Homo sapiens: one gene and its partner. The protein of the gene in region 1 purifies or fractionates together with the protein of each later gene. This does not show direct contact. Each region holds a gene or a part of one and is shown in the gene's direction. Other genes may lie near its edges.

What was found.
Region 2: the proteins of POSTN (region 1) and MKS1 purify together in Homo sapiens (affinity purification with mass spectrometry, with the first as the bait; one large-scale study listed by BioGRID). This does not show direct contact.

The regions. Positions count from the first base shown.
Region 1 is NC_000013.11:37,595,651-37,600,011, reverse strand, and holds the start of POSTN (periostin isoform 1 precursor), read left to right. Parts: upstream 1-1,243; 5' UTR 1,244-1,285; coding exon 1,286-1,404; intron 1,405-2,729; coding exon 2,730-2,828; intron 2,829-4,361. UniProt on the Homo sapiens protein: Induces cell attachment and spreading and plays a role in cell adhesion. Enhances incorporation of BMP1 in the fibronectin matrix of connective tissues, and subsequent proteolytic activation of lysyl oxidase LOX.
Region 2 is NC_000017.11:58,208,940-58,212,758, reverse strand, and holds part of MKS1 (tectonic-like complex member MKS1), read left to right. Parts: intron 1-324; coding exon 325-381; intron 382-1,736; coding exon 1,737-1,779; intron 1,780-2,034; coding exon 2,035-2,100; intron 2,101-3,819. UniProt on the Homo sapiens protein: Component of the tectonic-like complex, a complex localized at the transition zone of primary cilia and acting as a barrier that prevents diffusion of transmembrane proteins between the cilia and plasma membranes.

The DNA.
Region 1 (4,361 bases):
TCAGAATCCTCTCTAGTTCAGTCCAGTTCCCCTAAAGCCTTCCCAATAGAACAACAAGGAGAATTCTGACAAAATCTCTCTACCTCACCAGTGGGAAAAGAACATGGATATGACATTACAGAGGGAGCATCTTGTAGCAAAATGGATTGGAATTACACTTTAGGATGGTGTGCAGCTTGTTTATTCAAGGAAGCTGATTGTGGTTACCATTTCAGCTCATTGTTTCCCTCTGATATTCAGATTTCTTTTATCCAAAGTTTTCTGAACATTTGACATATGCATGGAGTAGTAAGAACGCACATTCCTTTGGCTAGGGATTGCATAGTGTAACATTGAAAGGCTTTAGTTATTCTTGATAAAATCAGAAGAATCATTTTGGCAATGTCCATGTTTCCTAATATGTATTTAATTGTTCTAGTTATCTCTAGATTCGTAACACTTGCTTCCAATATTGGCTGCTTTTCACCAGTGGTTATCAGTAGATGTGCTGCATAGACATGTTCAACATCACATAAAGTGTGTCATGAAAAACAATAAAGCACAAATGTTTTTCCTTTCTGCTTCATTTCAAACCTTAGAGAAATTTGTCAGAGTAGATTTATGTTAACTCTATATGTTCCTTGATATTTGAAAAAGAAAGGAAATGAGAGGTAGCTCTCCTTTTTGTACGATAGCAAGGAAAATATGGACTCTCCTACATGGTTCTTCAGCAAGTTAGAATTCTTATTTCATATCTTACACAAGTTTTAAATCTATCCAGAGTTTGTTTTTAATCAACAGCCTTTACCCCCTTGTGATTGTCAGACTCGCATCTACCTTTGTTTTCTGGTAAAAATAATAATAATAATAATCTTTCAGTTCTGATGTGAACTGCAATAACACCTAACAATAATCTTGAGCACACAGACATTATACATTCTACTCTGGAAAGGATTGCAGAATATCTCTTAAAACTCAACAAAAGAATTTTTCTTAAAAACCCTCTAAGATACAAAGGAATAAAACTGAGACTTAAACATGCAGTGAGTCAATTGTTCATATGATTAAAAATAAGTACCTTCTTTATAATGAAAAGGAAAAGTAGCTCAATGTGTTCCTTAAATATAACTAACCAAAACAAATCTTAGCTGGCAATTTGAAGTTGCCGATGCTTCCTGGAAAGAGTTCAGACTCTCAGGTTGATGCAGTGTTCCCTCCCACAACTCTGACATGTATATAAATTCTGAGCTCTCCAAAGCCCACTGCCAGTTCTCTTCGGGGACTAACTGCAACGGAGAGACTCAAGATGATTCCCTTTTTACCCATGTTTTCTCTACTATTGCTGCTTATTGTTAACCCTATAAACGCCAACAATCATTATGACAAGATCTTGGCTCATAGTCGTATCAGGGGTCGGGACCAAGGGTAAGTGAGTGGTTTGGTTTTATAAACCATTTTTCTTTTTCCTCAGCTTGTTAGATGTTCAAGTATGCATAAAGTTTCTCATATATGCCTCAGGGTTTTTTTTCCTAATTATTATAAAGTAATAGGAAAAAAAGGAAAATGTGAGTATTCTGTGATTTATCTATGCACTTTTAAGCTTTAAGACTTAATTGCTCTCTAAATACCTTGAATATAATTGCTTTCTTATGAAATGTTATATAATTCTAATCTAATTAACACAATTTAGCTGGGCATTCTTTTATAATTCCATTTATTTATGTTTTTATTTTCTTCCAAAAATCTGAAATTGAGTTTTCAAAATTAAAAAATCTATTGTTAGGAACTATCATATGTATGCAAACAGCATTGAAATATCTCACATGATGTTAGAGAAAATTTTATTTAAATTACATATGAAGGTTAAATACTGGGTAATGTAACTAGTTCTCTGAATTCTTTGAAGCATTTAAGTTACTTTTAAACTCTGAATTCTGTAAAATTTGCAAAGGTAATTTATATTTTATAGAACTAATGCAACTACAACTAAGCATTTTTAAAATTACACATAATTTTGTAACTTATCCAACCATTTATAATTTTTTAAGCGGATCTTGGCACTTCTTCCTATGCCTCACAGGAATTTTCATAATGTTCACAAGCTTCTTTGACTTACAGTGAAAAAAGACTTCTGTCCCTTTAAGAGGGGAAGGGGAACCTTAAAATTGTGACAGAGGATGTTCTGATCTGTTACTTCCATTCAAAAAGATAAATTCTCCTTTGTGCAACCATATTGTTTCAAAGTTAATTTTAGCACATTTACTTCTGTGATTACTTACCTAGAAAATTACAGAGTATAGTGTCTGTGTACATAATAAACCTTGTCTCTTTTGCTCTCTGACCTCTCATTGTTCCAGAGAGCCCTGAAGTTATGGCCATCCTCCAAATGAGCACATGCTTGGTTTAAAAAGGGTCAGTAGATTATCTACCATTAAAAGTAATAAGGCACATAGAAATAAAATTACGTTCATACTGTTTGAATAGTCCTAGTTGGTTAACTTTTTGAAAAGCTTGTATTTTACTCTCAGAAATGTATAATTTTTCTCTCTCTCCCTGCCACCTCCTGTAGACTTTCGGTTTTTCAACAATTCAGTAGGATTGTGTCAATAATTAGATTTGTGCAAGGCTAGAATCATGTCTTTGGATATCAAATCCACATCTCAACATTTTCTTCTATCAACCAATCTTTAGATACGAAAAACTAGTCATTATTAGGACATTAACTTTTTTCCTTTCCCTCTATCCTCCAGCCCAAATGTCTGTGCCCTTCAACAGATTTTGGGCACCAAAAAGAAATACTTCAGCACTTGTAAGAACTGGTATAAAAAGTCCATCTGTGGACAGAAAACGTAAGTCTCTTTTTTTTTTCATAATATGTCAGTTCCAAAAACAACATCATGATGTATATGCCTTCCCCTGGGTGTACACACCATTCTTCTTGAAAATACTGACCAAAATTGTGAGAGTTATTTAAAGAAAAGAAAGGAATACATACGTGAATAAAGAAGTTCTCCCTGCATCTCCAATATTACTATTAGAACTCAGATTTCTTCCTGAATCCATGTGACATGGAGGCCAGAAGGAAGCAGATCACATGGCTCAGGATTGGGTATAGAATCCGTGTGAGTAAATGATGTTGTTTCTACTCCTGGTTTGGCCCTCTTTTATCTTAGGCAAGTCACTTAACCTCTGTGACTTAGTTTCCTCATTTTATAAAAAAGTGGGCCAGAAAAACAAACTGATTTAAAATATCAGAGTTTCTGAGGCAAAAAGTTAATGTTTGTCTCTAGTCATTTGGAAATTGTCTAAAGTATTCCAGTTTACCGGAGAGTTTTCATCAAAGTTTAAAGTTAAAAAATACTTGAGTTTTATCTCTTTATTTAATCCAGTGATTCTCCGTTCAAGATGCTCCATCCCCAGAGGTCCACAAGGTGATAACGGAAGCTCATCATTATAGTTAATATCTCAATAGCCCAAAGGATGATTATGTTTTAACATATGTTTCACTGATTAGCTTAAAATTTGAAAGCATTATTTATTACTTAATAGACATGCCTTCTGGTTTATTTTACCAATAAATATTGGTGGAAAAAAGTAATAAACACTCTGGACTTATTAAGGTCAAGAACCACTCCTGTGATCCAAAGTCTTTATTTTACAATGAGGGAGACCAGTCATAAATAGGGCAAGTAATGCAATCAGAAAGGTTTAGGTGTCATCCCCAGTCAAGAAAACAGTGCAAGTGGCTCCTTCCTGCTTCCTATTAATTTGAAGTCCACCCTCAGTGAAGGATCCCTTGAGAATCAAAAGACCCCAGGAAGAACCTGCTTAATACATCAGCATTAAAATTCAGTTACCCTAAGTTCGGGTGGAATAATTTATTAGAAACTTATTTCTAAGTTAATAATATTGGTATAAATCCTAAACATGGGCCAGGAGTGGTGGCTCACACCTGTAATCCCAGCACTTTGGGGGGGCTGAGACAGGTGGATCACTTGTGGCCAGGAGTTCGAGACCAGCCTGGCCAACATGGTGAACCCCATCTCTAGTAAAAAAAAATACAAAAATTAGCCGGATGTGGTGGCAGGCACCTATTTGGGAGGCTGAGGCAGGAGAATCGCTTGAACCTAGGAGGTGGAGGTTGCAGTGAGCCGAGATGGCACCACTGCACTCCCGAGTGGGCAACAGAGTGAGACTCTGTCTCAAAAAAAAAAAAAAAAAGATACTAAATATGGAATCACTTAACTTCTTGTAGACTTACCTGTAAAACATGGATTTAATAGCTATATTATAGAGTTTCTGAGAAAATAAAATGAATTGATAAATGTGAAATTACTAAGTAACCATAATGCATAATATCAATTGTTCTTAAAATTAAACTC
Region 2 (3,819 bases), on another chromosome or scaffold:
CTTTACATACCTTATTTCCTTTAGTCTTTACAACAACCCTTTGAGGTGAACACTTATTACCACCTTATAAGTGGGGAAACCGAGATTGAGGAGCTAAGTAGTCTGCCCAAGGTGGCATAGCTTGTAAGGGCGAGAGTCAGGATTCTGCCCCAGACCAGCTGACTCCAGGGCCTCTGCTTCACGGTAAAATGGCGGTGAGTCAGGTGCTTACGCCTCCAGCTCTTGCTGACCCTTCCCACTATTGCTTTTCTTCTTCCCATTCAGAACTGAACTTTGGTCTAGCTTGGGTTGCATCTTGAGTTTTGGTTTGGTTTGTTTCCTCAGCTTTATGGCCGGCACAAGGAGTATCTCAGCAGCCTCGTAGGCACCGACTTTGAGATGGTGAGTAGCTTGGCTTCCTGCAGCACTGTGAGCTGTGTTTAGCCGGAGCATTCTGACTGTGGATGAGTTACACTACCTCTCTTAAAGGCCCAAAGGTATACTCTACAGTGTGAAAAGGAAGTCAAAGAATAGCACATATAGTCCTTGTTATGTGTTTTGCAACATTGCATGTTGATAGAGAACTGTTAATGCTAAGAAAAAGGTCTGAAAGGCTATGCACATGCTGTGGGTGGCTTTCTCTGGGGAGGGTGGGATTAGATGTGGTAGAAGGGTAGTGGGTGGTGAGAGGGATATATTAGGGATTTTTGCTTTTTATTCCCTAAACTTAGGTAGCTTTGAATTTTTATCAGTTGTAATGTATTTAGGTATTACTTTATAATTAATTTAAAAAATAAATATAAGGATGAAAAATGTCTTCTTCACCTTTCATGTGGATATTTTTTCAAAATACCCCATAGAGAGGCAGGGGTGCCATTTCTGTTTGTCACATATTTTGGCTCTTAAAAAATATAGGCCTGATGCGGTGGCGCATGACTATAATCCCAGCACTTTGTGAGGCCAAGGTGGGAGGATCACTTGAAGCCAGGAGTTTGAGAGCAGCCTGGGCAACATAGTGAGACCACATCCCTACAAAAAAAAAAAAAAAAATTAGCAAGGCATGGTGATACATACCTGTAGTCCCAGCTACTCATGATGCTGAGGCAGCAGGATTGCTTGAGCCTAGAAGTTTGAGTTTGCATTGAGCTATGATCACACCACTGCATTCCAGCCTGGACAACAGATCAAGACCCTGTCTGAAAAAAAAAGAAAGTGGTTTAGTTCAGCTATTCTGTTGTGCTGTTCTTTGTCTTTTCTCATTCTAAGAGTTCTATCTCTAGACCTGGAAACAAGGATAGAATTACTTCCTGGTCTCCCTCTCTTTCTCTGAAAAATTAACCTTCACTATTTCCATATTGCATAAGCAACAGATATTCAGTATTTAAAAGTTAGATAAGACATGCACAAATAATTAAAAAAGAAAACTCCCTGGTTTCTTGACCTCAGCCATCTAAAGGGAAGAGGGCGTTCTGGCTTCCCATTGCACACCACAGGACAGTTGCTGTTGCTTGAATAATTTCCCATAGTGCATTGTCCTCACTGCCATTTAAATTATGTACTTTCCCCCTACATTGTGAATCTTAGGAATGAAGGAAACAGATCTGTGGAGAAGTGTCAGGGTGGGGAGAAAGTGCAGTAGTGACACCCAGGGCCTGACCCCTAGTGGCAGGTCGTCTGCAGATTTGTAGATGGGGCTGGAGGAGAAGTGCCAATTCCCTCCAGGCCTGCTGATCCTTTCCCACTTCTCTTCACCTTAGACTGTCCCAGGTGCCCTCCGGCTCTTTGTAAATGGAGAGGTCGGTAAGTGTCTTGCTAGCATAGATCTCTTGATGCTTAGGCACGTGCCTAGATGGAGCTGTGAATAGTCTCCTCCACTCTGGTAGAGGCCTTGTCTGCTGTACTTGGGAAACTCAGTGGTGAGTCTTTCCTGGAAACGCAGAGGGTTCCTGGCCCTCAAAAGACTTGCTCTCAGGGTGTGTAGGCCCCTCAGGATTGGGTTGGGTGCTAAGGGTGGTAGGAGAAAAAGCTAAAATAGCTTCCTGTTTTCTCTCGTAGTTTCAGCCCAAGGCTATGAGTATGACAATCTCTACGTCCACTTCTTTGTAGAATTGCCAACTGCTCGTAAGTAATATTCTTAAGTCTCTCCTTTTATACCCATTCAGACAGATCTAGAGGCATTTGGTCAGGCTTCCTTTCCCACTCCTCTGCTGAAACTGTTACTGTTCTTTTCAAGGTCATAGATCACATCCACTTTACCAAACCCAGTGGAGACTTCCCTGCTTTCACCTCGCTTGACCTTCCTGAAGCATTTTCCAGAGCCCACTGTGCTGCATGACACACTTCTCTGGCTTCTGGCTCCACACTTCTCTCTCCTATCTCGCTGGTGGCCCCTCATCCTTCTTGGGTGATGCCTTCCCTTCTGTTGATCTTAAACCGTGAGAGTACCCACAGCTAAGCCAAGGCCTTCTGTTACTCTCTGTCTGCAGTCTTCCTGGGCAACGTCATCCATCCTATGGCTTAAATACCATCAATACGTCTCAGACTCCCAGGTTTCTGCCTCTAGCCTTAACCTTTTCCCTGGACTCCAGACTCATATCCAGTTACCTCTTTTGTCATTTCTGTCTAACATGACCAAAAAGAACTCTTGATTCCTCCTCTTCCCTCAAACCTCTCCTCCCTGGTCTTCCCCATCCTAACAGAATGGCAGTGTCATCTACTGAGTTGTTGATGCCAAAAACCTAGGGAACATCCTTGATCCCTCACTTTCCCTAGCTCCCTATAGCCAGCCAATCTGTCAACAGTTCCTGTCCGTTCTGTCTTCAAAAGCTGTTGTGAACCTATTTGTTCTCTCCAGCACCCTACACCAAGCCACCACCATCTCTTGTCTAGGCCAGTGCATTCAACTTCTGATGTATCCCCCTGCTTCCTGCCTTGCTCCCATTTGCCGTTGATTTGCCACAGACACCAAAGCCAAGTTGAGCTTTAAAAAATGTAAACAAGTTATGTCCCTTTTGAGCTGAAAACCCCAACAGCTTCCCCTCCCACTTAGAGTAAAATGTAAACTTGATACCCTGAATGAGCTGGCCCCTGCCTATCTCTTCCATACAACCTTCCAGTCATTCTTCCCAGCCAGGTTCATTCCCACCTTGTAGCCTTTTAAGGGCCGTTTCCTTTGTCTGAAACCCTTTCTGCCATATCTTAGCATGGCTGGTTCTTTCTGAGTTTAGGTCTCAGCCTGTGTCGCCTCTGAGAGGCCTTCTCTTACCACCCAGTCTAAATGAGCCTCCCAATCACTCAGTCCCTTCCCCGTTTTGTTTTTAGTATAGCACTCATCACTACCCAATAGTCTCTTGTTGGTTTGGTTTTTGTCTGTCTCCCTGCTTCCCCCAGAATGTCAGCTCCATGAGAGATGGGGATCTTTTCTATCTAGTTACCAAGATACCCCTAAGATATACTAGCACATAGCAGGCACTCAGTAAATGGTAAATGAATGATTGATTGTGTGAATAAATGAATAAAGAAACTGTCCGCCCCGTCTGGGAAGTGAGGAGCGCCTCTGCCCGGCCGCCCCATCTGGGAGGTGTACCCAACAGCTCCGAAGAGACAGCGACCATTGAGAATGGGCCATGATGACGATGGCGGTTTTGTCAAAAAGAAAAGGGGGAAATGTGGGGAAAAGAAAGAGAGATCAGATTGTTACTGTGTCTGTGTAGAAAGAAGTAGACATAGGAGACTCCATTTTGTTCTGTACTAAGAAAAATTCTTCTGCCTTGGGATGCTGTTAATCTATAACCTTACCCCCAACCCCGTGCTCTCTGAAACATGTGCTGTGTCAACTCA